2 separate regions of the Homo sapiens genome follow, and region 1 is linked to region 2. Evidence: fine-mapped expression QTL. A gene starts in region 2. The other region holds a variant in brackets. All regions are shown on one strand. Distances are between the middles of the regions.

The links.
Region 1: its variant is fine-mapped to the expression of LINC01270 in whole blood (TOPMed, PIP 0.98).

The regions. Positions count from the first base shown.
Region 1 is chr20:50,335,002-50,349,966 of GRCh38, reverse strand. No RefSeq gene overlaps it. Among named protein-coding and RNA genes, the nearest start is that of LINC01271, 21 kb to the right of the region's middle. RefSeq lists an enhancer at 10,654-10,853. The variant A/G (reference allele first, on the strand shown) is at 5,958.
Region 2 is chr20:50,284,618-50,299,582 of GRCh38, reverse strand. LINC01270 (long intergenic non-protein coding RNA 1270) reads right to left here and starts at 6,863. Exons shown (of 5, transcript NR_034124.1): 1 at 6,753-6,863; 2 at 1,170-1,427. RefSeq lists enhancers at 4,960-5,460, 6,574-7,310 and a silencer at 13,667-13,716.

The sequences.
Region 1 (14,965 bases), 50 kb before region 2:
TACATTTAAAAATAGAGTTTCCAATCTTTTTTTTTCATAACTTTTTTTCAAAACTTTTTTTTCAGCAAAGGTGTTTTGCTAAATGTCTAACCAAACATGCTTGAATGTATCCACCCTATTGCTTAGCTTCAGATCACGACTCCTTCTTCCCTTATAAGCAAGTTACTCACCTTCTCTGGGACTCAGTCTCCTCATCTAGGAAATGGGGACAAGCATGTACCTACCTGAAAGTCAGTGCAGGTACCTGTAAAGCTCTCAGGACACTGTAGGAATTAGTGGCTATATTCATTATTATTATTATTATTTGTTTTCATCTGAGAGCCAGGCCAGGGGTTTGGGGGACAAAGGTGAATCAGGTTGCTAGCTCTGGGTGACTCAGATTCTCGCCTGCATCATGGAGAGTTCACAAGAAGGGTCATGGTGTCCCCTGAGAAATGACAAGGAACCAACTGGTCTATGAACGTGAGGGGAAGTGACTGAATGGTGGTTAGCCTGAGCTGGAAAATGCACACTCGGTTGAGTTGCTCAATCCATCCGGTGACAGCAAGGCCCTCGGGTACACTGGGGGAGCCAGGTACATGCTCAGGGCCCAGTGTAGAGGGGCTGGGCCTGAATGGCAGAGGGGATCCCCGCAGCCTAGAGCTGGAGGCTCCCAACCCCTGGAGACATGGGGGCCTTTGGAAGGAGGAGGCATGAATGCTGCCTCGGCTGTTTTTGGCTTAACGCTGAGGTGTCCCTCAGCCTCCCACCTGCCCAGAGAAGAAAGTCATGTTTTTTAAAAGATGGAGATCCGGCCGGGTGTGGTGGCTCACGCCTGTAATCCCAGCACTTTGGGAGGCTGAGGCCGGTGGATCATTTGAGGTCAGGAGTTTGAGACCAGCCTGTCCAACACGGTGAAACCTCGTCTCCACTAAAAATACAAAAATTAGCTGGGTGTGGTGGCAGACGCCTGTAGTCCCAGCTACTCAGGAGGCTGAGACATGAGAATTGCTTGAACCCGGGAGGCAGAGGTTGCAGTGAGCCGAGATCGTGCCATTGCACTCTAGCCTGGGCAACAAGAGCGAAACTCCGTCTCAAAAAAAAAAAAAGATGGAGATCCTGGGATTACCCCCAGACATCGGGAGCTTCTCGGGGGCTCAAGCTTCTGGCAGTTTCTTTACTTGCTTTGGTTGAATTCTTCATTTCCACCCAGGTCTCACCCCTCCAGGCTGCCAGTCTCTTTCTGCACAGGCCACACATATGGGGCCTGCTTGAACCCGGGAGGTAGAGGTTGCAGTGAGCCAAGATCGCGCCATTGCACTCCAGCCTGGGCAACAAGAGCGAAACTGTCTCAAAAAAAAAAAAAAAAAAAAAAAAAAAAAAACCACAGAACATTATTCAGCCTTCAAAAAGAAGAAAACCTGGATTATACAAAGTGAAATAAACCTCTATCTCGAAGAGCAAGGAAACCTTTCCCAGAAGCCTCTAACAAATTTCTCAACACATCTCATTGGCTAAAATCACATTCCATGTCCAGCCTAAATCAATCACTGGCCTTGTTGGGGTGGGGGACACTGTGGCTGACTTAGAGCAACGGGAATCAGTCCCCTGAGGCTTGGCTGAGGCCCATCTTCCTGGAGCCCATGGGAGGGGTGGGGGCAGGGATTTCTTGTGCAAAATGAGCAAAATAGGTTCTGTTAGGAAGGAGGAAGTGGGGGGATGGCTGAAACGGGAATAGCTCATTGCCGCTATCAGCATATCTGCTTCTTGCTGTCGGGACCTACTGAACTGCCTCCGTTTCTGGGTTGTTTTGAACTGACTCTTCCGCTTTCTCATAAATTCTGTAAGCTCACTCATGTTCCTCTAATAAATTTCCTTCCCACTTAAGTCAGCCAAATCTGGATCTCACTGAGGCCCCAAATTTCCTCAGTGATCATCTTTAGCATCATCGTCACCGAACCATCTTTGCTGATATTTATTGAGCACTTGCTATGTGCCAGGTCCTGTGAGACACACTTTGCTTACAGCAGATATTCTCAACCAGGGGGTGATTTTGCCCTGCAAGGAATGTTTGGCAACGTCTGGAGATATGTGTGGCTGTCACAACTCAGGGAAGGAGGTGCTACTGGCATCTAGCGGGTAGTGAGGCCAGGGACACTGCTAAACAAGTCCTGCAATGCATGGGACAGCCCCCAACCAGGAGTTATTTGGCACTAAATGTCAGTAGAACACAGACTGGGCAACTCGCTCCTAACCAAACCTGGCGTATTTCACAGAGAAGCAGCCAGTCCAGAATGCCCGAGGGCCCAGGTTGAGAAAGCTTGCCTTGCACTGTCAAGCAGTGAATGGCCGAGAAGCATCTGCTGTGTGCCTGTCCATGCTGAACAGTAGTGGGGCTGAGGGCCCAGCCTTAGCCCCTGGGAACTCGAGCCCATTTTAGTCCTTTAGGTTATTCCACTTGCTCTTTTCCTTATTCCAAAAGGAGCTTGAGGCAACCAGAACCAGCGATCATTGCTCATATTGCCCATGAGTGAGAAAAGAAACTAGCTCTGTGGAGGAAGAGACGCCTCCCCCAGCTTTGGATATTCAAAGGGGTTCCTCATGAGAGAATTTCGCATGGGGTCATGGCAGTGCGGACAGTAAGGTGATGAGATGTATATTCAGAAGGCTCAGCTATTTGTCAGGATTTCTTGTAGCTGCAGGCAATGGAAACCCAACCCAAGGTGGGTTTTAAAAAGGGAGAATGAGAGAGCCATGTCTGCTTCAGATACAGCTGGATCCAGGAGCACCGCTGACGATTTTCGTCTGGGGGCTGTCTGCGCCTCTTGGCTCTGCTTTGCCCCATGTCACTGGCATTCTCAGGCGGTCTCTGTTTCTCAGGGTGGCACAGTGCCTCAGCTGCTCCAGGCTGACATCCTACAACGAGCTCAGCCACCTCAAGGCGGCAACGTCTTTCCCATTCCAAAGTCGCCGGTTTAATTTCTTGGCCCTGATTGGATCGTGTGCTTACCCCTGAACCAATCCATGTGGCCAGGGGCCTGACTGGCCAGGCCTGCAGCCCTGAGGATGGATGGGGTCAACTCTCCTAATTCACAAGACCAAGGGGGTGGAGGCACCACAGGGGAAACTCAACGTGGTCTCCAGAAGAAGGGACACATGTGCTGGGTGGCCCCAGACCCGCGCAAATACAGCATCCTCACCAGCTCAGCCAGCGAATCTAACAAGGACCTACTTTGAGCCTGGCGCCAAGCCCAGAAATGAATCTGGCAACTTCCTGCCCTCTGGGAGGAAAAGAAGATATAAATAAGTGCAATTCAAAGCACTGTGTGATGTGTCCTGAAAGAAAGAAACAAACAAAAGGCTACAGACACGAGAGGTTGGCTGAGAAAGGGCACTGGGCTGGCAGGAATGGCTTGAGCAAGGGTAAGGAGGTGGGAGGGGCCAGGTGTGTTCGAAAAACTAGGGGTCATCCTCGTGGCTGGCGACGTGGGGAACGAAGCTGCAGAGGGCAGTTGGGGTAGATGGAGCAGGACCAGGCTCACCCAGCCGGGCCGTTTGGACTTTCTCCAGGTCGCAGCGGGGAGCCATTGATGGTTTTAGAGCAGAGCAGAAGCAAGATCTGGAGTTGCACTTTCTGAAGATGAACTCAGCCGTTGTGGAAGGGGAAGGGCTGGGACAGGGAGAGACTGAAAGGGACAATTGAGCAGCTGTCACAACTGTCCCAGGACAGATACTGGACATCAGAACCAGGGCAAAGGTAGGGCAGAGGTCTTTTCATTGTCTCCGAGGGCTGGGCACATAGTAGGTGCTCAATAAATGTGGGGTGGAGAGAGGAATGGGAGAAGAGGCCTGAACCTTGGCAGCTGCAGGAGGGGAGGGCCGATACCAAGTTTATCCAGTTACGCTGAGCAAAGCCCCCACACCACAGTGGGTCCTCAAGGAAGCCATGGCTACCCTGGTCAGCCCCCAACCTGCTTCTCCTGTGCAGCTGCTGACAACTGCAGCATGTCCCAGCCAGGGATGGGAGTCTGGAAGAAAAGCAGGAAGGAAGTGAGAGGACAGAGCAGGTTGTTCTCCGCCTGGGCCTGGATTCCCCCTGCAGCTCCTGACCCTTCTCAGGAAACCAGGATGCCAGGTGCCAATGGGACACCAGAAGCAATGACCATGCAGCAGAGGACTGGACATGATGACCTTGGGAGGTCAGCACACCACCCACTGATCTCTGAGGCCGAGGCCCCTCCTTTCATTCTTTCTTAGAAATATTTATGCTCAGGAAGCTGCTTCCTTGACAAACCCGCTGGGCTTCCTAAATATTCACCAACGACTCGTTGTACCATTGGCAGGACATTTTTGCCAGAGCTGCCAACTGTATTTACCGACAGAGGGACTGGGAAGATCTGGGGCAGTGGGGTGGTCAGGGGGAATATATATATAGGGGAATATACAGAGGAGAGTCCTGAGAGAGCAGAGACCATCGAAGCCTCTGGATCAGCTGTGGTCAGGTGGGGAAACCGGGTCACTGATCCCTCATAAGGCTTGAAACCAGCAGCTCATAGCACCTGCCAGAGTCTCCCTATTTTCAGAGACCAATATAAAAGATGTCTGGCCCAGAGTGGGCTGAGCAGGTCCTGAAGGCAAGAAGGATGTGCAGAAAAGGAGATGGGACACCCATTCCTAATCAGGATTGACTGGGCTGTCCTGCTTCCAAGTGCCTACTCCCAACTTAATGACAACAGCAGACACCTCCATTCCACCCACTACGTGCCAGGCTGTGTTCCCATATGTCACATGTATTACCTGGTTCTTGCAACAAAATAGTCCTGAGCACCAACTATGTGCAGGACCCTGTTCTAGACACTACTCATGAACAAAAAACCCAAAATGCCGTGGAACGGACACTCCAGTGTCATCGGAAGTAAATACAAGATGTAGTATGCTAGAAGGTGATGAGTGTTTTGGAGAAAAATAAAGCAGGGATAGGAGATGCGGCTGTCACAGGTGGGATCTAGTGGCACAGCACTTTGGAGGTAATGATGAACAAGCACTCCCATTTGGCCAATGAGGTCACTGGGGTGCAGAGAGGCTAAGTGATTTGCCCAAGGTCACACAGCTACAGAGGCAGGATTCGAACCCAAGTCATCTGGCTCCAGAGTCCTGGTTCCTGACCTGACGAGGACTCCAGGTTCTCTGACTTTAGCACAGGCGTCACCAGAGCCTCAAGATGCAGAGCGACTTGCAGAGGAGCAGGCAGCCAAGATGGAGGAGGTGGAGGGTTGGCTTTAGCATTGGGCCAGCTCCCAGGCTGCAGGCCTTGGGAGGCATTTCTCCTCCCTGGGCCTCAGTTTCCACCTCTGCAAAATGGGGAAGTTGCAACCCCTGCCATGGAGTGGGGGTTCCTTGAGGTGGCGCTGTGGAACTGCTTCCTAACACTGGCCACAGCGACTCCCAACACCTCTCAGGCTTGCCCTACAACCCATTTTTCACCTGCAGCCAAAGGCGTTGCCATGAAACAGACCATGTCATGGTCCCATCCAGATCCTCTGATGGCTGCCCCTCACTTTGGACTCTGGCCTGCAGGTGGCCCCTGGTGTCCTCTCACCTCCACTCACTTCACTGCGGCCACCCAGCCTCCTGGCTGCTCTTGCAGATCTGCCAACTCCATCCTGCCCCCCAGCTTGGGCACCCACCATTCCCTCTGCCTGAAGCCCCCTCCCTCACCTATCAGCCACGAATGGAACTCAGCCCGCACTCTGAAACAGAGGCTTTCTTGCCCCCTTGGGATCAAGATGCTCCACAGACAGACCCCGAGGGAGATGGAGACACAAGCAGAGGGACAGGCTGAGACATACATGGGCACGCAAACCAAAGGTGCTCAGAGCCACACGTGGTCCAGAGGTACAGAGAGACACACGGTGCCAGACGTAAAGTCACAGCCACAGCCACGCCCAGGGAGACACATGGAAGCCCCAAGCCACAAG[A/G]CTATTCAGACACACTGGCCATGGGTGTGCAAGACGTGCATGGGCACACTCAGATAGACACACATGCCCTCACCCCACACACACGTGCACAGGCACACCCAGGGAGCCGCAGCCAGCACCAACGTGGCCCAGAACACCCAGCCACACACATGCACACACACACTTCCCTCTGGCGCCCGGAACAGCCCCGTGCCAAGCGTCCTAGGACAAGGACCGCCTGCAGCCAGCCTTGGCGGGAAGGTGTCCTGGCAAACAATACCTCCCCTCTCCCACCGTCGGCACAGACACAAGGAGCCATTGTCAGCCTGGCACACACCGCGGGGCGGCCTCTCCACAGGCCCTCCTGGCGGGCATGCCTGCACGTGGGGGCGGAAGGCTGGCGGCTCCCCAGGCCCACCTGCTCCCATCTGCCCACCAGGGACCCTGCCTCCTTCAGAGCCTCCTGCCTGGTCCTGCAGACCCTGGAGGGCTTAGCTCCCTGGCCCACTTTCCCTCCCCAACCCCTTGGGACTTACGCATCCTCCTCACAGAGCGGCCAGGGCTTACGAGGGGCAGGGTTTGGTGGCTGAAAACGTGAAATCTAGATTCAAACACACATGCCGTGTGACCTTGGGCAAGTCACTTCCTGTCTCTGAGACTTGGTTTCCTCATCTGTAACATGGGATAATGCTAGCACCTCCCTCACAGGGCCGGTGGCATAACGATTTGAGCCACAGCATACACAACACTGAGGCAGCAGGTGCACCCTGGGATCTGGTAGGCCCAGGCTCCGGCGACAGCCTTGCCATTCTCTTGCTAGGCCTCGGGCAGTTGACATCACCTCTCTTCCCCTCAGTCTTCTCACCTTGAAAGTGGGGATGGTCGTTGGCCCCCCTTTCAGAGGTGTTCCTTCTGTAAGACTCTCACATGGAGGGTTTAGGATGAGCCTGCCACACAGTAGGCACTCAATCAATGCTGGCCATGATCATTGTCTTAATGGCCTGAGGCTTGCTTATTCACTTATTCTTTCTTTTCATTCCTTTCACCAGTCTTTCCTGCGTACCTACCACATGTTGTAAGCTGAGCAGTTCACCCTAAGTTGCTCCCTCCCCCTATGCCCCAATGGGCTCCTGTTAGATGTTTGTTGACTGACTGAATGACAGGAGGCAATTCAGAGACCATCACTACCTCCAGGCAGCACAAGGACACTGACTGAGTGGTCAGGAGCCCTGGGTCAGCCTCTTAACGGCTTGCGATGCCCGGTCAGGAACACAGATCCCTGCTCCACAGCAAGGACGTCATGAAGATTAGGCAGGGTGGAAAAAAGAAAGTGCCACTCAGTGAACACCTACAATGCCAGGGCCACCCTGCCAGCAGTGCCACAATCTTTTCAGGACCTGCCCCTGTGCAGACGGCACCTGTTTGAGCAGCCACACCCCTCTGCATCCCTCTCACCATGCTCCGGCTCATTTAATCCGAAAGTGCTCATCAGCTGCTGGCTTCACGGTTTGAGTTCATTGGCTTGTCCTATTTGGTGTCTGTGCCCCCGGACCAGGGTCCCTCGACCTTGGCTTGACTGACATTTGGGGCCAGATCATTCTGCACCTGAAGGCTGCCCTGGGCTTTGTAGGATTGGTTCAGCAGCCTCCTTGGCCTCTCCCCACTAGATGCTGATAGCACCCTCCCTCCACCCAGCTGTGACAACCACACACATCTCCAGACATAACCAAGTGTCCCATGGGGAACAAAACCACCTCTAGCTGAGAACCAGAGGGCAGAGATTTTGATTTGTTTGGTTTCTTGCTGTATGTCCCTGTGTATACAGTAAGTATCAATACATATTTGTCGAGTGAATCTTGAACAGATGCATCTCACCGACTCACGCTGTTCCCCTTTGCTGGAACGCTTTTCCACTGCCCTTTTCTGGCGCACTCCTACTCATACTTCAAGACCCTGGCAAGGAAATGATATGAGGAAAGTGGGGCATGCAGGGACTGGGTGAACAGGAAAGTACCTACTATGTGCCACTAAGAAAGGGCCTCCCGCAACCCCACTCCCAGGCCTCCTGTGTCCAGTAGGAATGTGGGCCCAGTATGGCCACATCTTCCCATTTTTCAAGAGAAGCCAGAGAAAAGGACTTTATGTGAAATCTCCTGGCATGTCAGATGTTGGCAATTGATTCACATTAAAAAAAAATACTTTAAGGACCAAACTAAACATATCTCCAGAGTGGACCTGTCCCATGGGCAGCTGTCATGGAGGTCTGCTCTAGGAGGCTTGATGGGTACGAACACCTTTGAGGATAACGAAGCTGAAGCAGTTCTTCCTGGCGTCTCACTTGCGTGCCCTCTGTTGTAGCCATTGTGGGAGGGGTTCTCATACAGCTGGGGCAGCTCTGATGGGGGACAGAAGGGCAGAGGTAGCGCCCCCAGCTCTGAGCCGCACCCACAGGCAACACCCAGCCCACCCCAGACCAGCTCCTTGCCCAGCTCAGCCCAGAGTCCAGGGTGGATGGAGTGTGGGGAGGACTCATCATGGGGGCTGTGAGAAGCCTGTTTATGGCTCCAAAATTCCTATGCCCCAGGCCTAGGGGAAATTAGTGCTCGTATGAGGCTGTTCACCTCCAAACTCCTTGGCCTCTCCAAGAAATTAAAAACAGGGAAACCGAGGCAGGACTGAGCTTCATGGAGACCTGGGCCTGCAGGCCTGGGCAGGCTTGGAGGCAGCCAGGAGGCTGACTTCTCTGGAAAGTCCCTTGTATTCGAGAACTGGCGGGGTGCCGGGGAGCGAGGACACCAGGGGTCTCCTAGTCTCAGAGCCTTCTGCCGGATCCAGGAGCTCCTCAAGCGTCTGCCCTTTCTGGGACAGAACTTTCCAGCAACAGAAAGTTGAGGAAGCCCCTCTCTGGAAACCCTGAGCCTCCTTGATGGGGCTTGCATTCTGCTTTGGGGCAGAATGTGGGACTGTGGGACAGGAGGACGGGGCGTGAACCCCAGTCCTAAGCCCAGATGTCGGCTGGAGATCCTCAAAGCCAGGGCCTCTTCTCAAGAGTCTGATGGCCCCACCAGCCATTTCTCTCACCCAGACCCCAAGTCAGACTGGACACTGTCACCATTGTCCTGGAGGCCAAGAGACCCGCAGACCAGAATTCAAAGCCTTGCCCCGCTGCGGGCTGAGACAGTCGCTTGGGCTCTGTGGTCTCATTCCTGCATCTGTAAAATGCATCCTTCCATTGTAGGAATTCAACAAGCACATGACATGGGGCTGGTGCTGGGCAGAGGAGAGAAGAAGTGACAGTGAGCACGCACCCTGGGCTGGTGCTGAACCCGCCACACACGTCCTTCTTCCCTTCTCACCACAAAACCCTGCATCTGTTCATTCAATGCTGGATGAGTGCCCCCTATGTGCCAGGCTCTGAGATTTAATGGAGGACAGTGGAGAACTGGCCTCTGCCTGCTGGGAGCTTACAGTCTGGCCAATGGGGAGTTATGAACCCCCTAAATTATTGTGTCAAGTAGTGGTCAGTGTTATGGGAAAACATTCACGCAGGGTGAAGAGGTAAGGCCAGGGGAGCAATTTGGAAGGGCCGGGGGTCAGAGCAGGACCCCCGGGGTCATTTAAGCAGACACCCAGATCAGGAGAGGGAAGAAGCCCTGTGGCTATCTGGAGGAAGGATGCTGAAGGCAGCGGAAACAGTGTGTGCAAAAGCCCCGAGGTAGGCGTGTGCTTAGCATGTTGGAGGAACAAAGAGGAGCCCAGTGTGGCAGGGGTAGAGGGAACCAGAGAGAGTGAGTAAGAGGAGATGGGCCAGGCGCGGTGACTCACACCTGTAATCCCAAGCACTTTGGAAGGCCAAGGTGGGCAGATCACTTGAGCTCAGGAGTTCGAGACCAGCCTGGGCAACATGGCAAAACCCCATCTCTACTACAAAAAATACAAAAATTAGCTGGCCGTGGAGGCATGTGTCTGTAGTCCTACCTATCTGGGAGGCTGAGGTGAGAGGATGACTTGAGCCCAGGAGGTTGAGGCTGTAGTGAGATGTGTTGGCACCACTGCACTCCAGCCTGGGTGACAAAGTGAGACCCTGTCTTAAAAAAAAAAAAAAAAAAAGAGACAGAGAGAGAGAGATGAGGTTATAAGGGAAGCATGGGAAAGATCTTGTAGGGCCTGGTAGGCCACAGAGATCTTTGACTTTCTGCCAAGTGAGGTGGGAGCCGTGGGAGGGTTTTGAGCACAGGAAGGTCATGTCCTGACCTCCTATACTCATCCTCATCTTAAAGGTGAGGAAACTGAGTCTCAGAGAGGTGAAGTTACCCACCCAAGGTCACACAGCCAGCAAGTGGCAGAGCTGGAGTTTGCCCCCACATCCCTGTGGCTCCCAAAGCCAGCCTCTTCCCATCCCATCAGCTGCCTCTGTGTCTGGCGTGAGTCAGGAGGCTGGATTGCTGGGAGGGGGAGAGCTTTTTAGAGCTGCTTTTTGGAGCCTCCTGGCTCTGCCTGGCACATCCCCTCCTTCCCCACCCATGCCTTCTCCCTTGCCCTCAGCCACCCCCAGCTGCCTGCGGTGAGTGCCTAACATTTAAGGCTATCCCCTCCCAAGTGCAGATTGGATTTTTTTCTTTCCATAAGTCCCCATTATGCCCCAGTAGACTGGATTTTGGGCAATAGAAAAAACGAGCCTAAAGAACTCCAGCGCTAATTGGGGGTGACAGGCAGGGGCTCGGGGCCTCTGGAGCAGCCTGGCTCTGTCTCTAATTTGCAGAGTGGCCAGGGTAAGTCCCTGGCTTCCAAAGTCATGCTTGTTTGAAGGACAATCACTTTCTTTTTCTTGTAAAAGGAAGATAAATTGTCAGCCTGTCGGTTTCATTATGAGCTCGTCCGCTGTCTTTCCAGTAACTGAGGGCGAGAGGCTGAGCCGCTGCCCAGAGGCTGCCTGTGAGGCCTTGGGGGCTGTGGTTGATGCCACCTGGCCTCCTTCGCATCACCTCCCTCTCAACACCCCTCCCACCCCCTCCAATAATTGTGGTATTTGGTTTTCCCTCAACACCAAATGTGAAACTCTCCTGGAGGGAGTGCAAAAGGAAGTCTGTGAATCTCTGAACTGTGGTTGAATGAAGGTATTCTTAGGCGCCTGCTTGCAAGGATGGTGAACTTCTGGTGCTAAAAGCAGAATTGCTTTTCAGTAAATGTTATTACTCAAAAGGAAGTTGTTACCACCACAGCCACCTCGAGCCTCTTCCAACTGCCACTCTGTCTGCCAGGCCAAGTGGGGAAAGGGTCTCTCAGTGGCTCCCAATGACCCCATCCAGCCCCCAGGGGAAGGTCTTGCTATCTCAGCTGACCCTGGAGGCCTGAAGCTGAAGTGCAAACAACCACAGTCTGCCTAGGCAGAGTATCTCAAGGTAGGGGCTGTTTGCTGACTCAGCATTTAAAAGTCCCAAAGCTTGAGTGATCTTGGCTGAGCTGGGCTGGAGCTACAGGTGGGGTTGGGGGCACACAAGAAAGCTGCCCGTTGGCTGCAAGGTTGGCTGTTTTTTGAGAGCTGTTGTCCATCTTGGCAATGCACCTTGCCTAACCCCTATTTCCTCTTCTCTAAAATGGAAAGGTGATCATACCTCAATGGAAAGAGCTAGCATATTGATTACTCTAGTAGATACTTAATAAGTGGTGAGGTTATTATCAACAGTGAAAATGATTCTGGATTTAAATCAGACAGACCAGGGCTCAGATCTCAGCTCTGCCACCTACTAGTTGCACAACCTTGGACAAGTCCATTCCCCTCACCAAGTCTCGGTTTTCTCTGGATCACGCAGGAGTGATTATAGCACCTACTGCTCAAAGTTGTTGGGAGAATTCCGTGAGCTGCAGCACGTAAGTCACAAGGCACACAATAGGTATGCAGTAGGCATGGGTTCCACTCCTGCTCCATTTTGCCTTACAGAGGATCACCCCCCAGGCTGTGTCCCCACCTGAGCAGTCCCAACCACAGGCTCCAGGTGGAGAGACACCCATGAAAGTTTGCACCCACCGGGGTCCAGAGGGCAGACAAGAAGCGACCAGGCCAAACTCAGGGGAGTGGAATGGACCACTCAGCAGACACTTCCCTGCAAGAAAGAAGTCAAAACAAACCCCCTGGCTGGTGAGACATGATCCCAATCTAGAGCTCTCAGAGGATGCTCTCGGGTCCAATCCTCTGCCTGCCTCTACCTGTAGCCTTTTCTACAGCCCGGAAAAGTGGCAATTTCATTTACTGGGCAGCCACTGCAAGTGAGCATTGTGCTCTGCATGTCTCATGAATCACGTCATCGTGTCCCCCCAGCAACCCCACGAGACAGTTCCTCTCATTGCTCAGCACCTGCAGGTGTGGAAACTGAGGCCCAAGGAGGTGAAGGGACTGGTAGCTGAGATTTGAACCCAGCCCATCCCATTGTCAAGTCACACACATAATCACCGCACTACTTCCGTTATCTGAGAACAGTGTGTCTGTGTTACCAAAGATATAATTATATTTAGTAGTGTCTGGGTATAGAAAATTGTATAATATATTCTTTTTAAAATGTATTCTTTTGAGATTATTATAGATTTACATGCAGTTGTAAGAAATAAACAGAGAGAGTCCATATACCCTTTCCAGTTTCCCCCAATGTTAACAGTCACAATAAAGATATTGACAGTGATATAGTCAAGATACAGACATTTCTATCACCACGAGGATCCCTCATTGCCCTTGTATAACCAAACCCATCTCCCACCCCCAACCCTGCCCCCGAGCCATGGCAACCACTAATCTGTTCTCCATTTCTATAATTGTGTGGTTTCAAGAATGTTACATAAATGGAATCATATAGTTTATGTAACCTTTGAGGACTGGTTTTTTTCACTCAGCATAATTCTCTGAAGATTTATTCAAATTGTGTGTTATCAATATTTTATTCCTTTGTATTGCAAGTAGCAGTCCATAGTATGGATATAACACAGCTTTTTTTAGTTAAAAAAAACCATAGACAGGCTTCCGGGTGGTTTACCAGTTTTTGCCTATTATGAAGAGAGCTGCTATGAAGATTTGAGCATAAGTTTTTGCACAAACATAAGTTTTCATTTTTATGTCCAGGATTGCAACTGCCAAGTCATAAGGCAGTTTTTAAAAAACTGTTTTCCAGAATACGGTACCGTTTTACATTCCCATCAGGAATGTATGAGTGTTCTAGTGTCTCCATTCCTCACCAGTGATTGAATGCGAAAGTTCCCATCGTTTTTTATTTTGGTCATTCTGATAGGTGTGTAGCAATATCCGATTGTGGCCTTAATTTGCATTTCCCTAATGGCTAATGATGTTGAACATTTTTTCATGTGTTTATTTCCATCTGCATGTTCTTTTCAGTGAAATATTTGTTTGTGTCTTTTGCTCATTTTCTATTTGGATTTTTTTAACTGCTGACTTTTGAGAGTTCTCGAGAATTCCGTCAAGTTTTAAGAATTCTAGGTACTAGTTCTTTGTCAGATATGCAGTTTGCAAATATATTCTCCTAATCTGTAGCTTGTCTTTTCCTCCTCTTAATTGGGCCTCTCATGGGTTAAAAGTTTTCAACTTTGATGAGGTCCGATTTATCAATTTTTTTCCTTTTATGAATTGTGCTTTTGGTTTTCACATCTAGTAATTCTTTGCCTAGCCTTAGATTCTGAAGACTGATTTTCTCCTGCTTTTTTCTAAATGTTTTATAGCTTTATGTTTTATCTTTAAGTCTATGATCCATTTTGAGTGAAGTTTTGTATAACGTGTGAGGTTTAGGTCAATGTGCTTTGTTTCTTGCGTGTGGATGTCAAATTGCCCCAGCACGATCTGTTGAAAAGGCTTTTTATCTTCCATTGAACTGCTTTTGCATCTTTGTCAAAAATCTTTTGGGCACATTTGTGCGTGTCTATTCTTGGGTTCTCTACTCTGTTCCACTGTTGCATGCATCTGTCCCTCTGCCAACCAGACTGTCTTGATTACCACAGCTGAACAGTAAACCTTAGCATTGCATCAAATGAGCCCTCCCACCTATAGAAAATTGTATATTGTATTTTAATTCATTGAGAAGTGAGGTGGCAAATCTCTGTCCTTCAACTTATTTATTTAAAGAGAGAATAATATTTTCCACGGAGGTAGGGTGGCCGAGCGGTCTAAGGCACTGTATTAAGACTCCAGTCTCTTCAGAGGCATGGGTTTGAATCCCACTGCTGCCAACTTACTGGCCAGGTGTGGTGGCTCACGTCTGTAATCCCAGCACTTTGGAAGGCCAGGGTGGGTGGATCACTTGAGGTCAGGAGTTTGAGACTAGCCTGGCCAACATGGCGAAACTTCGTCTCTACTAAAAACACAAAAATTAACTGGTGGTGCACCTCTGTAATCCCAGCTACTGAGGAGCCTGAGGCAGGGGGAAGTGCTTAAACCAGGAGGCTGAGGTTGCAGTGAGCTGAGATGGTACTATCTGCATGCCAGCCTGGGAGTCAGAGCAAGATTCTGTCTCAAAAAATAAATAAATAAAGTAAAATAAAATAAAAATAAAAAGAGAATACTGAGACAGAGATGACCAAGGATCCACCAAAGACTCATACTCCTCCTCCTAAGTGTTGTAGGTAAGCAGTCACCCACCCAGGAGACTACATTTCCCAACTGCCTTTGCATCTAGGTGGAACCATGTGATAAATTCTATCCAGTGAAATGTGAGGGGAACTGATGTGTACGTCATTCTCGGCTGAGCTGGTTGAGCATGGGTTTCTCCTCTATCACCTCTTCTGGCAGCTGGCTGGATGTTGATCCTCAGGGAGACCTTGGAAGCTACCTGTTGCAGATGACTGAGCCCCCATCTGTCAGATTCCTGAGTGACTGACTGCATGAAGCAGAGCTCCTCCTCCTCATTGACCATCCTAACAATAAGAAATGTCTGCATTTACAAATGAAATGTTGTAATACTATGAAATTTTAAGAATTGAAATAAAAAATACAACTTATAAAATGTCCATCCATGTACAACTTAAAACCTCTT
Region 2 (14,965 bases):
TCCATTTTTTTTTTTAACCTGCAGAGCTGAGCATAGTGTGTGGCACACAGTAGGTGCCCAATAAGTATTTATCAAAAGAATGTGGCCCTTGTTGAAGGAGTCACTCCAAAATGGCCTTGGCTTTTAAGCTGTCCCTACTGCGCAGTGACCCCTGTGTGGCCTTAGCCAATGCCACAACTCCCAGCCTCAGTTTTTCTGTCTGGGAAATGGGCAATAAGGTCATCTCAGCAAAGATTGATGCAGGAAGCGCATGCTTAGACTCGACTTTGGTTGCAGGCTTTGTCTCAGGATGTAACTCACCGCCACTTTCTCACCCTGGCTAGTTGGGTTTCTAGCCAGCGATGAAGACCTAGAGGCATCTGAGCCACACTGAACCTTCGAGGTTGAGGCTGGTACCTGGAAACCGCCTGAGTAATCCCACTGTGTTCCTGCCCAGCCTGATGGGGCATGAACTGGAAATTCCCTATAATATTTGCTCATTAAATGATTCCTCCCCTCCTCCTGCTTTTTCCTCCTGCCTCCCACTCTCCCTTAGCCAGCTCCCAAAGCGCCTGCAGTAATCTCTGCAAAGGAGTCCAACTGGTTTGGGGAGGGCTGGGTGGCCACTTCTTCCTGCCTCCCACCTGCCCACCCGCTGCCGGAGCCCAGGCCTCTGCCTGCCGGGGTGCGTGGGCTGTGCAGTTCTAGAACACAGCGCCGAATGCCCACGCAAGATAAAGGGACCACTAGCGCCTCCTCAGCCCAGGCCCAGCCCTTGTGCAATCCAGATCTTTGCTCCTCAGAGACAGCCATGGGGATGAGCAGATATGCTTATCTGATGGGGCCACGAGGCCTCCAGATGATTCCAGGGGCTGTTTTTTCTTAATCCGGCTTTGGGCTCCTCACTGCCATGCAAATGTGCCCGCTGTTCCCCCATTTGGGCATGTCCTCATCCTCCTTCCCGTCAGTCAACACTTATTAGGCACTTCCTGTGTGCCCAGCCCTGTGCTGAGTGCTGGGGACGCAGAGGTAAATATGACAAAGTCCTCGCCCCATGGAACTCACAGTCTGAGGGGGACAGGGCAGATACATAAAAAAAGAGAATGGTCACAGGAACGTGGGTAACTCTCAAAATCATAATGTTGAGGAAAAGAAGCCCAGTAAAGAATACACCACATGATTCCACTTACAGAAAATTGTAGAGAACGCAAACTAATCCACAGCCGCAGAAAGCAGATCAGCCACAGTCGGCAGGCGATGGGAGTGTGGATGGGGCGGCCGGGAGGGATGAATGACAAAAAGACACAAGGACACCCTTGGGGGCGATGGATATGTCTGCTGTCTTGATTGTGCTGGTGGTTTCGGAAGTGTGTGCATATGTCCAAACTCATCCACATGAACACTGGAATATGCGCAGTTTATCGTGTGTTTGTTACACCCCAGTAAAGCTGTTGAGAAGAAAAAAAGGGAGATAATTGAGAGACAGTGTGAGCAGTGCAGCAAAGGTGAAACTCAGGAAGGTCATGGGAGGGTGGATGGAGAGGGTAGTCAGGGAAGGCTTCCTGGAGAAGGCAACTGTTGAGCAAAGTTTTGAAAATGAAAACAAGTCACATAAGGAATGAAGAAAAGAGAGTGGTGTTAGATTCCAGATGGCCTGAGCTCAAATCCTGACTCAGTGGATTCACAAAAAGCTGTGTGTCTTTAACTTCAGCTCTCTGAGACTCAGTTTCCTCATCTGTAAAATGGATCTCCTATTTACCTGATAGGACTGGTGGGAGATTGAAATTAGGGAAAGCCCTCCGCCCGACATCCAATGCTCACAGCATCTGCAAACGCCCTGAGGTAGGAGAGGAACAACAGGGAGGAAGTCTGTGGTTGCAGCAGAGAGAGGAAGGGGAGAATCAGGGGGTGGGAGGGAAGGCCCCAGGGACCAGGGCTACAGGATGTGCGGGCCATGGTGAGGGCTAGAGCTGTCTCTTAGCACTGGGGAACCAAGCGAGGCCTGGATAAATGCAGGAGAATTTTATCAACAAAGTTGTCCTTTTAATGAGGTCACTCTGATTATTACAAAAAACAATTTTACAGTCGGGAAAACTGAGGCTTGAGCTAAGGATTGTTCCGAGGTCCTGTGGAATCACACAGCTAGAAGGCAAGTGGTCTCCCATCCGCCTGAACCTCTCTGTAATCTCTAAGCAGGTGAAGGGCTGTTATCCAGGTCTATTTGCACACCTCTGGTGATGGGAAACTCACAGTGTTAACAGTTCTTCCTATAGGACCCAATTAACAGAGGCTTCTCAAATTGGACCCAGCTCTTCCCTCTAGCTCTGCCTGGACACCAGCTGCTACCCTGCCAGAGTCCTATTAGGAGGAGCCCGCTGTGGGCGGGGATGAAGTAGGAAGAGATATGAGCTGTGACGGAGGCTTTCTGGGTGCTGCCCCCAGCACTCTGCCACAAGAACCCAGGACATACCCATTCCTTCTCTGGGCTTCAGTTTCCCCATCTGTAAAAGGAGAGATGCTCATTGCTCTCAGAAGCAGACTTGGCCCTGCCGAGGGGCCTGGCAGGGGGTGGGGCAGGCATGGGGTTCACCAGTATCACCCGTCCACCCCCGTCTTGGGGGCCAGGGCCCTGTCTGGATATAAAGGCCGGTGCCCTGGGGTGCAGCCGGCTTAATAACAGGTTCCAGGATCCAGGAGGGGTTTGAACCCAGGAGAATAGGTTCAAATACAATTGAGCAGCCCACGTTCCTGTCTGTAGCTCTGAAAGCCAATCGTTCCCACACCCAGAGGGCCCGGTCCCGGCTCTCATCAAACCCATTCACCCCAGTGGAGCCCCCATCTGTGTACCTACCATGTGCCAACCTTCCCACTGCGCTCAGAAGATGCACACTCCTGACTTTGGCCATGAGCTCTGGACCTGCCCCGGCCCCCAGTCCCCTCCTCACTCGCCCCTTCACACAGGCCAAGCTGAGCCCTGCATCGAGGCCTTTGCACTTGCCATTCCTCCTGCCCAGAACTCTCTTCCTGCAGATCTTGCCATGGCGGCTCGTCCTCCAGGCCTCCAGCCAAGCTCACCTTCCAGTGAGGCCTCTGACCCCATCCTATTGATCCCTGTCAGCCCCCTGCCTTGTTTTTCTCCATCAAAGTCTTCACTGGGATGTCCTGATCCTCTGCCTGGCGTCTGTCTGTCCCTGGATTTGGAGCTCTTAGACGGCAGAGTCTAGGGCTGCCCTGGGACTGGCTCTGACATCACCAGGTCCAGGCTGGACCCAGCCTGGTACCCACCTCACAGTGTAGGTTAAAGAACAAATGAAACGGGCATGGGAGATTTTGCACCCACCTGGGGGACCATCAATGCTTCATCTACACAGACCCTCTCATCTCCACACACAGGCCAGGGGGATGCATAGACCTGGACACAGATTCACTGCATCCCGCCCCCTCCAAAACACCCTGACACACACGTGTGCACACACACGCGCCCCCCGTGCCCACCTCCCCTGGCCTCCACACCAGTGCTTGGCACCCAGACCTCTCAACTTTCCCTCCTTTCACTGGGCGCCAGCTGGCCCTTCGCCAGCTCCTCTCCCCAGCCTGCCCGCCTGCCCTGGGCACCAGACTTATAAAGGACGAGGAAGGGCCTGGGGTGGGCTGGCTGGGTGCCATGTGAATGCGGCCCCTGGGGCCTTCGCTTCCCCCCGCTGCCAGACACCTGTGTAATGAGTGTCATTACTGGGGACCCGTTGGGCAGGCCCCAGCTCGCCGCAGCCACCCAGGCTGCACATGATGCTGGGGACAGGGTGCAGGGAGCGTGAGGGGCAGGGGTGCTGGGGGCGTCTCTGCTCTTGCCAACCCCAAAGCTCAGCTCTGGGTTTCTGGATCAGCAAAGACGACTTCCCGCCTTCCACGCAGATTCCAAACCTCAGGCCCTTAAGTCCCCTATGGGCTAAGGTCCAAGATGGACTCGGAAGGAGACAAAGGAGGAGAAACACTTATTGAGCACCTACTGTATGCCTACTTGTTGCTAAGAGCTGGTCACTTTTACTTCCCACTGTCAGACACTGTCTCATCCACTCACCCCTCTTCTGTTTGCTTATTGCACATCTCAGCTCATTCAAGCACAATTGAGCACCTACTATGTACCAGGCTGTGTGCTAAACACATTACATATATTAACTCATTTGTCCTTTCAGCAATCCTATGACGTGGCATCTTACAGGTAGGATGCAAAGAGGTAAAGTGTCTCACCCAAAACCACACAGCAAATAAGCAGTGGGCCAGGAGTTAACCCAAGGCCCCTGGCTCCAATGTCTGTGTTCTTAACCACTCACTGCTTTACACTACCTCTTCCATCAGCCCTACAAGGGCAGGGATTTTTGTCACTGCTGTGTCCCCAGCACCCAGCCCAGGACCTGGCATATAGGAAGCGCTAAAAAAAATCCAAGGAATAAATGAGTGGACGAATGAGCGAATGATCTCACTGAGTTCTGAGAATATCTTTCCAGGTGGTATTTATGGATGAGGACACAGAGGCTCAGAGAGGTAAAGTGACTTGCCCCAAGTCACACAGGGAGTGTGTCACAGCACTGAGATTGGAACTAGGATGGGAGGTCTGCCCCTCCGCCCTCCTGCCCCCCATGGCCCTAATCTCTCCAGACAGTCCCTGCCCCTGGACTGTGGGCCACATGAGGGCAGACGTGTGCCTGTCCCTGGGCAGTCCTGGGATCCAGCCTGGGGTCTGCACGCGGTGGAAGGCAATTCCAGCTCCTCCCCTTGGCCCCAAGGCCTTCTGAAAGGGAGACCCTGACAATAACACTTCCTCACCCGGTCACTTTCCTGACTCCCAAGCAGTGATGAATTTCCCAGACAACGCCTGCACCTCACCGCCACCTCTGGGCCTGTCTGTGTGCTGCTTCCCCTACTGGGAACGCTCTCCCAGCCCTTCTGCCCCAGCCACAGCTTGGAGGTCACCTCCTCCGCCAGGAAGCCATCCAGGCAGCCCCACAGCCCACAGCTCTCGGGGCTGCAGGGATGAATGTGGGACCCTCTCCTCCACGGCCTGTGTTCTGGCTTCTGGCTTCTCCGGGGGAGTTGAACTCCCTCGATTCTCATGCCTGTCCAGCCACTGACCTTCTAGGGGAAGCTGGCTCGGGCCTCACTGAGCTCATCTGTGAGATGGGTAGAAGTTCTGAATGCGATCTCAGGCAGTCTTGCCATCTCTCACATAGGCTCCTGCCCAAGTCCCAGCCGCGGCTGCTCACTCAGCCCACCAAGCCCTGCATGGTCCAACCCCTGCTGGCCCTCCAGCACCATGTCCTGCTGCTGTCCCCTCCTCACACCCCTTCAGCCTCCTTGCCTTTCCTGGAACTTCCCAAACCCATTCCCACCCTCAGGGCCTTTGCACGTGCTGTGGTGAGTTTCCCTCTGCTGGAAATCTCTTCCCCAGGTCTGGTCCTTCTTCTCCTTCAGGCATCTGCTCCACATCACCGCCTCAGAAAAGCCCTCTCTGACCCACTCAGCTCCCAAACACCCCTGCTGATTCCCATCACGGCCCTTCTCTCTGGTGAAATCCTCTCGCCTCTTCAAGCATTTGCTCACCGATGTTTATCTCCTCCATCCTCTCCTCCACCATAGTGAGGGCAGAGACCTTGTTCACTGCTGGGTCCCCTGGAGCCTGGCATACAGTAGGTGCTCAAGCAGTGGTGGTGGAATGAAGGGAAGAACATCAAAGTGCTGCCCCACCCCTGCCCACCACCGGCCCCCAGCCCAAAATCAGGGAGTGGGAACCAGGAGGCCCCACTCCCGCCAGCAGCAGGCGCCCCCTCTGAGCCCGAGCCTGTCTGGTTCCCAGGCCCATAAAAACCACCGCCCTCACCTTGCCCTGGGGCGGCAAAGGGTGAAGGAGGAAGCTGTGGGGTTCAGAGATTGAACTGTCATGGATTCAGAGGCCTGGGCCAATGAAAGTCAGTGTTCACAGAGTGCCTTCTGCGTGTCCAGGTGCAGTTGAGACACCCCACACTCACAGCCCTCACTGCAGTTCTGCAAGATCAGGACCACCACGATCACCCTTCACAGGTGAGGAAACTGACGCACGGTAGGGTGCAGCCACGTGCTCCAGGCTGTGCAGCCTGAGAAAGGTGAAGTCAGCATTGGAACCCAGCTCCGCCCGACACCGCAGCCAGCATTGCTCTCATCCATGGCAGTGCACGGAGACCATGTCGGTGCCAGCTATGTGCCAGGTGCTGGTTCAGAGCACAGGTCCTGGAGCCAGACTGCTCAGTGCGTTAGGCAGGTGACTCAGCCCCTCTGTGCCTCAGTTTCTCCAGCTGTGAAACAGTCCACATGGCACCTCCCTTGTCGGCTGCTGAGGAGACGAAAGGAAATTATTTCCAGTCAAACAGAGTGCTCTTGTTGCATGCCCTTGGGAGAATTCATTCCCGCTCTGAGCCTCAGTTTCCCCATCTATCATATGGGGATTAAACTACGCCACTGTGTTGCATCGCTGCGAGACTAACGTGACGTATTTGCACAGTGCCTCCCGCACAGTGGACGTTTACTCAGAGCTCACTGTTCATTCACTCCAGTCCTGCAGGCCTCACTGTCCCCATCTGTAATCCCAGAAGGCAGCCCTGATCACCCAAGACGGCTGCTAAGTCCCTAGTGCAAAGGTCGAGGGGTCCCAGGGCAGCCCTGACAACTGGGGATATCCTGGGGGTGGGGAGGACAGCTGAGTGGCCGGGATCAGGAAGCTGCAGGGGGCCCAGGTGACTCACCCGCTGGCGGGGCTTGGGGGCTGGGCTGCGGCCCCCACGCACCCCTCTGGGCCCTGCCTTGTGCCCAAAAGTGCTGTGTCATGCTCCGTCATGTGGCTCCGGGTCATTAATACCCGAGTTCTGGGAAGCTTGGGCCGAGTTCCCGGAAGGGGTCAGCCAGTTCAGTAAACAGATTGGCTGGTTCGTCGTCACAGCTGAGCCGGGCGGGCCTGCAGCTCAAGAGGCAGGAGATGGAGGCTGGTGGCCAAGGGGACACAGGAACTGCCCCCGGCCCCATTCGGGGCTGGCACCTCCCAGGGCAGCCTGGCCCAGGCTCTGCAGATGAAAGGAGAAACCAAGGCCCAGAGAGGGCAAGGCAGTTGCCAGAGATCACACAGCAGGTCCGGGGCGCGGACCTAGAATTCTGGTCTTATCATCCAGTGCTCTCAGCATCACTCTGACTGATGGGCAGGGGGGGACAAATCACCTCAAATTGTAACCTAAGCCCCCCAAGCCCCCAAATCCTAACCTGGACCCTAAGGCCAGTGTGTTGGATGAAGGGAGAAATAAATGGAAGGCAACTTGGGAAGGAAGCAACTTTGAGGGGTTACTGGGCTGTCCCCTGTGGTCGATCCTATAATCATAGTAACTGCTTCTAGTGTTTCTTGAGCATCTATTATGTACAGGGCATTACCATAAGTGCCTTCCATAAATCCACCCATTTAATATTCAGCCACCTTTATACGAATAAACACAGGCATCACGTTTAAAGCATCCACTGAGTGCCAGGCACTGAGCTGGGTGATTGACATACACCACCCGGGATCCTCTGCGGACCTTGCCAGGGAGGCATCGCCGTCACCCCTGTTCATCAGATGAGGAAACAGATGCCCAGGAGGGCGAGCAGCTGAGGTGTATGGTGGGAGAACAGCAGGCTCCAGAGTCGACTAGACCCAGGGATTCAAATCTTTACTTTTACCCTTCCTGCTGTATGGCCTCAGGCAAGTGACTCCACCTCTCAGAGCCTCAGTTTACCCATCTGGTAAATGGGGATGATTATGGTACTGGAAACACTGGAGCCAGACTTGGTGGGAGCTCGTGAGTGTCATGATAGGGCAGTGGCTGGAGTGCAGACTTTTGGGTTGAATCTTGCTGTGCCCCTTCTTGGCTGTGTAACCTCGGGCATGCCGCTTAGCCTCTCTGGGACTCAGTGTCCTCTGTAAAATGGACATAGCACCTCCCTCATGCGGCAGGTGGGAAGAATGAATGAGCAGAAATCCCCGCAGCCTTCTGTGCGAGGCCAGGTATTCTGCAGCCACTGAACGCAGGTGACTTGTTCTTATATTTCACCTATGATGGCTCCACTGGGACTGGGGTGAGGGGAAGGACACTAGACCATGGGCAGAAGGACAAGGCACCCACATTCTTTGCTGCCCTTTTGCACCCACAAACAATCTGGAAAGGGAAGCTCAGCCTTGCCTGCCTCCTTGAGGGTCGGGGCTGAGGCTTGGCGTGAATGGTTGCCATGGCATCCTCCCCACCTCCCCACCAGCCACTCTGCCTTGCTATGGACTCCACGTTCCTCCCCTACTTAAAACCCTCTAGGGCTCCCCATTCCTCTTCTCGTGTACTACTCCCCAGTTTGGCTGAGCCCCAGACAGGCCTTATCATGGCTCTTTGGTTCTTGGCACCCCAGCCCCAGCCCCCTTGGTACAAACTCTCACACTCATCATTCCCACCTCACCCTTGTGCACACACAGGGCCCTTCACCCGGCATGCCCTCACTTTCCCTAACCCACCTGCCTGGTCTGGATTTCACCCACCCTTCAACGCACGTATTCAAAACCTCCTCCTCCAGGGAGACTGCCCTGATCCTCCCCTTTGAAAGCGAACTCTTTCTAGACTCTCTCTATATATATACCTCACTTACGTCTTTCTATCATTATATATCAACTATTTTTGTCCACCACCTCAAATTTTGGCAGCTGTGAGGTAGAAAATTTGCACAAGGGAGATTTTGGGGAAAAAATATTGCCTCTAAAATACTTAAAGAAATCTGCTGGCCAGGTGTGGTGGCTCACTACTGTAATCCCAGCACTTTGGGAGGCCGAGGCAGGTGGATCACTTGCAGTCAGGAGTTGGAGACCAGCCTGGCCAACATGGTGAAACCCTGTCTCTATCAAAAAATACAAAACTTAGCCAGGTGTGGTGGTGCATGCCTGTAGTCCCAGCTACTCAGGAGGCCGATGTGGGAGAATCACTTGAACCCGGGATGTGGAGGTTGCAGTGAGCTGAGATTGTACCACTGCACTCCAGCCTGCTAGGCGCGACCCTGTCTCAAAAAAAAGAAAAAGAAAAACCTGCTAAGTTGAAATTTTAAAATCTTTAATTAACCCACTCACACTTTATAATTCTATATTAAATTTCTAATTTAATATTTACAAAAATATTACAAAAATTTTCGAGGCGTTTGTAAACAATCTGCGAGTGAGAATGTTTCTTGTTGGGCAAGCGTTCCCTGGTGTACGCAGGGTTGCCAAGAACCCGAAGTAAGTGGTAAAATAAACGCGCTGCTTGTTGCCACACAATTTCAGAAGTGAAGTTACTAATATTATTGAAGTGTTTGGGTGATTTTTCCAACCCTCTTTTGGGTCCAGTCTGACCTTCCGTGTCCGTGTATTCCCCATCATCCTCATCAACCCGTCTCCTTCAACTCTTTTTCCAGTTCCCCGTCTTCTTACCTCCCTCCACCTGGAAAACAGTCTTCCATATTCCCGCCACACATGCTCGCTCACACTCCTCCGCCCCCTGCAATGCCCTCTCCTCTTTTTTGTGGGAATCTGACCCTTCTTCACAGTTGAGTCCAAGCACCACCTCTCCAAGTCACCCCGTCCAGCCCCGATCCAGGACCATCTGCCAGGCTCGGAGGCAGCTGTGCTAACTCTCCCCGCCAGCTCCTTACCTGCAAAATAGAAGGGCTGCAGTATCACAGAGGCCTCAAACTCACGGCCTTCAGGCCAAACCTGGCCTGATATTTGCCCTAACATTTAAATATCAACAGGTTTCATATAGCAATCTAGATCAAGCTTGTCCAACCCGCGAACAACAGGCCACATGTGGCCCAGGATGGCTATGAATACGGCCCCACACAAATTCATAATGTTTCTTAAAACATGAGATTTTGTTTGCGATTTTTTCTTTTTAGCTCATCAGCTATCGTTAGTGTTAGTGTATTTTATGTGTGGCCCAGGGAAGCCAAAAGGTTGGACACCCCGATCTAGATTTACAGCTTCTCATGAAAAACTGTCAGTCCCGGCTTCCCACGGGGCGACACTGGCAGAAACTGAGCAGCGTCCACCCCTTTAGACAGGCCTGCACCCCTCTCCCACCACTTCACCATGAGTGCTGCTTGCCCAGCCCTGGCAGCACCTGAGTTTGGCTTTTTTCAGTCTCAGAATCCCTTCTTTTATTTTATTCTAATTTTTATTATTATTTATTTATTTTCTTTTAGAGACAGGGTTTCGCCATGTTGCCCAGGCTAGTCTCTAACTCTTAGGCTCACACAATCCTCCCATCTCAGCCTCCCAGAGTGCTGGGATTACAGGCATGAGCTATCGCGCCTGGCTGTGAGGCTGCCTTTTGGAACCAGTCCTCCAATGAGGCTGATCCTCTGACTCCCTTGAAAAAGCATCTTAGAGTCTCCTGGTCTGCTGGCAAGGAAAGGCCGCCTGCCCACTTGTTCCCATCTGCACCGGTAGAAGAGACCCTTCCCCAGTGTACATCCTCTGGACACTTAAATTCTTTGAAGCACAGTGTGAAAAACTCAGCACCCCCTGAGGCCAGGTTGTGACCACGCCAGGTTCTGGGCCCTGCCCTAGACCTATGAAGTTGGCCCCTCAAACCAGTTCCCCATCTCAGCAAACGATAGCGCCTGCATCCACCTATCCACTCCAACATCTCCCTCGCCCAATCCAACAAATCCTGCTGGCTTTGCCTTCCAAACAGAATCCAGTCCCTTCTCCCACCTCTGCTGCCATCGCCCTCCTTTTGTCCTAGACTAGGGGAGTCATCTCTGCTGGGTTCTCTGCTCTCATCACAACATCCTGGCCCCCCACAGTCCACTTGCCCCATTTGCAGCCAGAGAGATCCTGCACCCAGGACACATTCCGCAATGTCTGGAAATAATTTTAGTTGTCACAGCTGGGTTTGGGGAGGAGGTGCGACTGGCAACCTCTCCAGTGGGCAGAGGCCGGGGACGCTGCTTAACATCCTACACTGCACAAGACGACCCCACTACAGAGCAGCATCCAGCCCCAAATGTTAATGGTGCCGAAGCTGAGGAACCTGGTGTTAGAACCTGAGTCAGGCCATCTCCCTCCTGTGCCCAGAGCCCTCCAATGCTCCCGCCTCACTTGCAATAAAATTCAAACTCCTCCTCCTCCTGAGGCCCTCAGGGCCTGGATGATCTCTGGCTCTCCTTCACTTTCCCCCACAATGCAAGCTTGTTCCAACCTCAGGGCCTTTGCATCTGCTTTTCCTACGATCTGGAATGCTCTGTCCCAGACATCTGTGTGGCCAGCCCCTTCAATTCCTGCAGACTCAGCCCCTTTTCCCAGTGGTCTCACTATGGGACATGCTATGTCTTTCACTTATTTGTCATTTCTTTGCTGTCTCCCCCTCCCAAAACCTAAGAGCCATAAAGTCAAAGGGTTAGTCCATTTTGTTTCCTGCTGTCTCCCTAGTACTTTAGCACATACTAGATGCTCAATAAATGCTTCCCAAACAAGCACATGACTTGGTCTACCAGGTCTCCTGTGCATTTGAATTTTAGAGTTGCAAAGGTTTAGTCTGCTGAGGGCTGGTGATTCCTTCGTCCTGGAGGAAAAAATTCAGTAGTTCCAGGACTCCATGATCTGAAGCATCTGAAGCATCCATGGAGCTTCCATTTGAGGCCCAGAGCATTGCCCAGGGGTCTCACCCAAGGCCTCGCTTAAAGAGGGGATGACAAGTAGGTGAAAGAGAAGGTGAGGCAGGGGCTGAGCCAGGAGTTTGGGAAGGCTGAGGCCACAGGTGGTGGTGGGTGACAGAGCTCAGCTTGCATGGGTCCCAGGGCTTCACAGCCATCAGGACTCCAGGAGTGCAGCACCAGCCTGCAGATCGCCATGCCCTTTGCAGCATGAGACACACCCAGGGAGGCGCTGGGAGGGGGCTTCTGGAGACCTCCGGCCACAGCTCAGAAAATAAAGATGGACAATTTGGCTCAGGAAAAAGCCATGTAAAGTGAGTTATTCACCAAGAACCAGAGCCAAAGCATCATAATGAAGAATGACCTTAGAGAATGGCCGGACGCAGTGGCTCATGCCTGTAATCCCAGCACTTTGGGAGGCTGAGGCAGCCAGATCACGAGGTCAGGAGATCGAGACCATCCTGGCTAACACAGTGAAACCCCGTCTCTACTAAAAATACAAAAAAAAAATTAGCCCGGCGTGGCGGCATGCGCCTGTAGTGCCAGCTACTTGGGAGGCTGAGGCAGGAGAATGGCGTGAACCCGTGAGGCGGAGCTTGCAGTGAGCCGAGATTGTGCCACTGCACTCCAGCCTGGGCAACAGAGCAAGACTCTGTCTTAAAAAAAAAAAAAAGAATGACCTTAGAGAGATTTGACTAGGTCACTGTCTTGCCACGTGGGGGATAAAAATTGTGAAAATAAATTGATTTTCTCTTTGACCTAACACAATTATCATATAATTGCTGTGGTGCACACAGATTCTTAGAATGAACACACTAAAGCAAGCGTGGATACATTTAAACATATTTAAACCAAATTGCATGACTGCACAATGCAGTGTTCTTTTCATTGTACTTGACATTCCTGACATAATCACGGGGAGGGTCATTTCTGCAAAATGATTCCATCTGCACTGTGGCCACCGCTGAGCCCTGGTCACTGCCCCCAGAACTGGCCCACTGCAGCTTCTGGAAAAATAGCCGGGCTGCAGCCCCACCCACCCCAGAACGGAGTCCTAAGCAATCAGCCCCCAACATTTCCAACTTCTGATTCATAAATCTGGCATGGCTGCATGTGATTGGTGGGCCCTGGTCACATGTCCATACCCAAGCTTTGGAGGAGCAGCCCTCAGCCCCCTGGCTGGGGACCTGGCTTCCTCCTCCGCCCCCACTCCTTGGCCCCACACCTGGCTCCTACCGCCCAGCGCACATCCCTGGAGGCGTCGGCCTCGCGTCTTCGGTTTTTAAATGACCAAAGAAGTATCGTGCCCCATTTTAGAAATGAATGATAAGACAGGCAGGATATGTGTTATGACTTTTAACAACTAAGGGGCTAATTTCCCCCACTACGAAGGCGGTCTCAAACAAGACAGACCCTCCATGGAAGAGAAAGCATAGAAACAAAAGTGAATTGGGAACAACTAGGCGCCTTGGGAAGGCGAACATGGATGAAGCAGATGTCATCTCTTCTGAGCTGCGAACAGGAGACACACCGAGGTTCAGAGAATGAGAGTGACTGAGATGAGGAGGAAGAAGGAGAGAGTTTCAGGCAGAGGGGACTGCTCAGGCAGAAGGGTGGAAGGACTGAGAACACGGCTGCCGCAGCTAGAATTGGAACCTTCTAGACCAGAGGTGGCCCACGGGGCCACAGATATCCACAGAGTCAGGTTTTGTTTATTTGTTTTTAATTTGACTCGTTGGCCAACATTTAAAAATCAGGACTTTTCACATACAATCTCAGACTTCTGGCTTCTCTTACTAAATGGGAAGATCCGGGCCGCCTGCTGGCTCAGAGGCCACCGTCCCCTGAGGAGAGCCTGTTCTCTCCAGTTCACCGGAGCCAGCACCAGGCCACCTTACTCATCCTTTCACCTTCTGGCCCAGAGGTGCCTGGGTTTTGGTTCCCTGTTCTAAAGCCTGCTAAGGAGGATGCTGGGGAAATCAGAAAGCTCGAACAATTCTCTCAAGGCTGTCCAGCAACAGAGCTGCAGCCCGGGACTCGGGATACCCAGTCCTGCTGGGGACACCAAGTCCCTCCCCACAGAAGCTCCACAGACCCCACCTCAGTCTCCAGGAGCTGCTGACCCTGGCCCGGAGTCCCGGGGGACCAGGAGGCCGGGCTGGGGAAGGCCCCGTCCTGTTTAGGTTTTTGTGGTCTCGTGAGTAACCGAGTGGAAAAAAACAAGCTTGAAAAGATAACAATTACAACGAAATTAAATCAAATCAGACCCGTGACTCATTTATGGAGCCGTAAAAACAGAAAACAAAAACAAGCTGGTTCTGGAGAAGTGAGGCCAGGGTGAGGAAGGGAGAAGTCGGGGAAGGGAAAAAAATAAAGCAACAGCAGCTATGGCCCTGGGACTGTAAATTATCCCAGCAAGGAGGGAACCATGCGGGCCCTGGAGGGGCTGGGCCTTGGGGGTTCCGGAGCCAGGAGTCCCAGGACCCCGTGGGAGAGGCCAGAGACCCCACCTGCCTGCAGGATGGCTGACCTTGTCCCCCCAAACACCTCCGTGAGTTGGGTACCATTAGGGTGCCATTTTGCAGACAAGGAAGCTGAGCCTCAGAGGGACCAAGTGACAAACCTCGATCACACAGCCAGGAAGTAAGAGGACTGAGATTCAAACCTGGCTCCAAAGCCTGTAACGGGGTTCAGTTTTGTCATCTAGAAAACAGGCACCTGAGCTCAGCTCTGTTCCAAAAACAACAAAGAAGCCAGAGTCCTGGAAGCTTCCCTGGATGTTTTGGGAGCCCCGAAGCCTGACATCGGACATGGCTGCCCCTCTCTAGGTCTCACTGTCCCCATTTGTTCACTAATGGGGTCACATCAGGCAATGCCTAAGGAAGGCCCCAGCGGGTCTGACCCAGGGGAGCTTCAAAGCCTGTTTCCCAGAAGCCTCTGCCCCCGGGAGATGTAAGAGGAGCTGGAGGCAGAGCCAGAGGGAGCCAGCCGTGCAGGCCCACGATTCCCTCAGAGGTCGTCCTGACCCAGGGAGGAGACTGTGCAGGCAGCAGGAAGCTGGCCAGGCAGAGAAAGCACGGGCGCCGGGCTGATGAGGGTGGGATTGGATGGGGCTAGAAATCGGGAGCCAAAGCTAACACCACCACACGGCATTGGGTTTCAGGTGCTTACTAAGGGTCGGGCGTGGAGCTAAGCACTTTCCATTCATTCATTCATTCATTCATTCATTCATTTATTCTGCAACTATGGACTGAGCACTTTCTTGTAC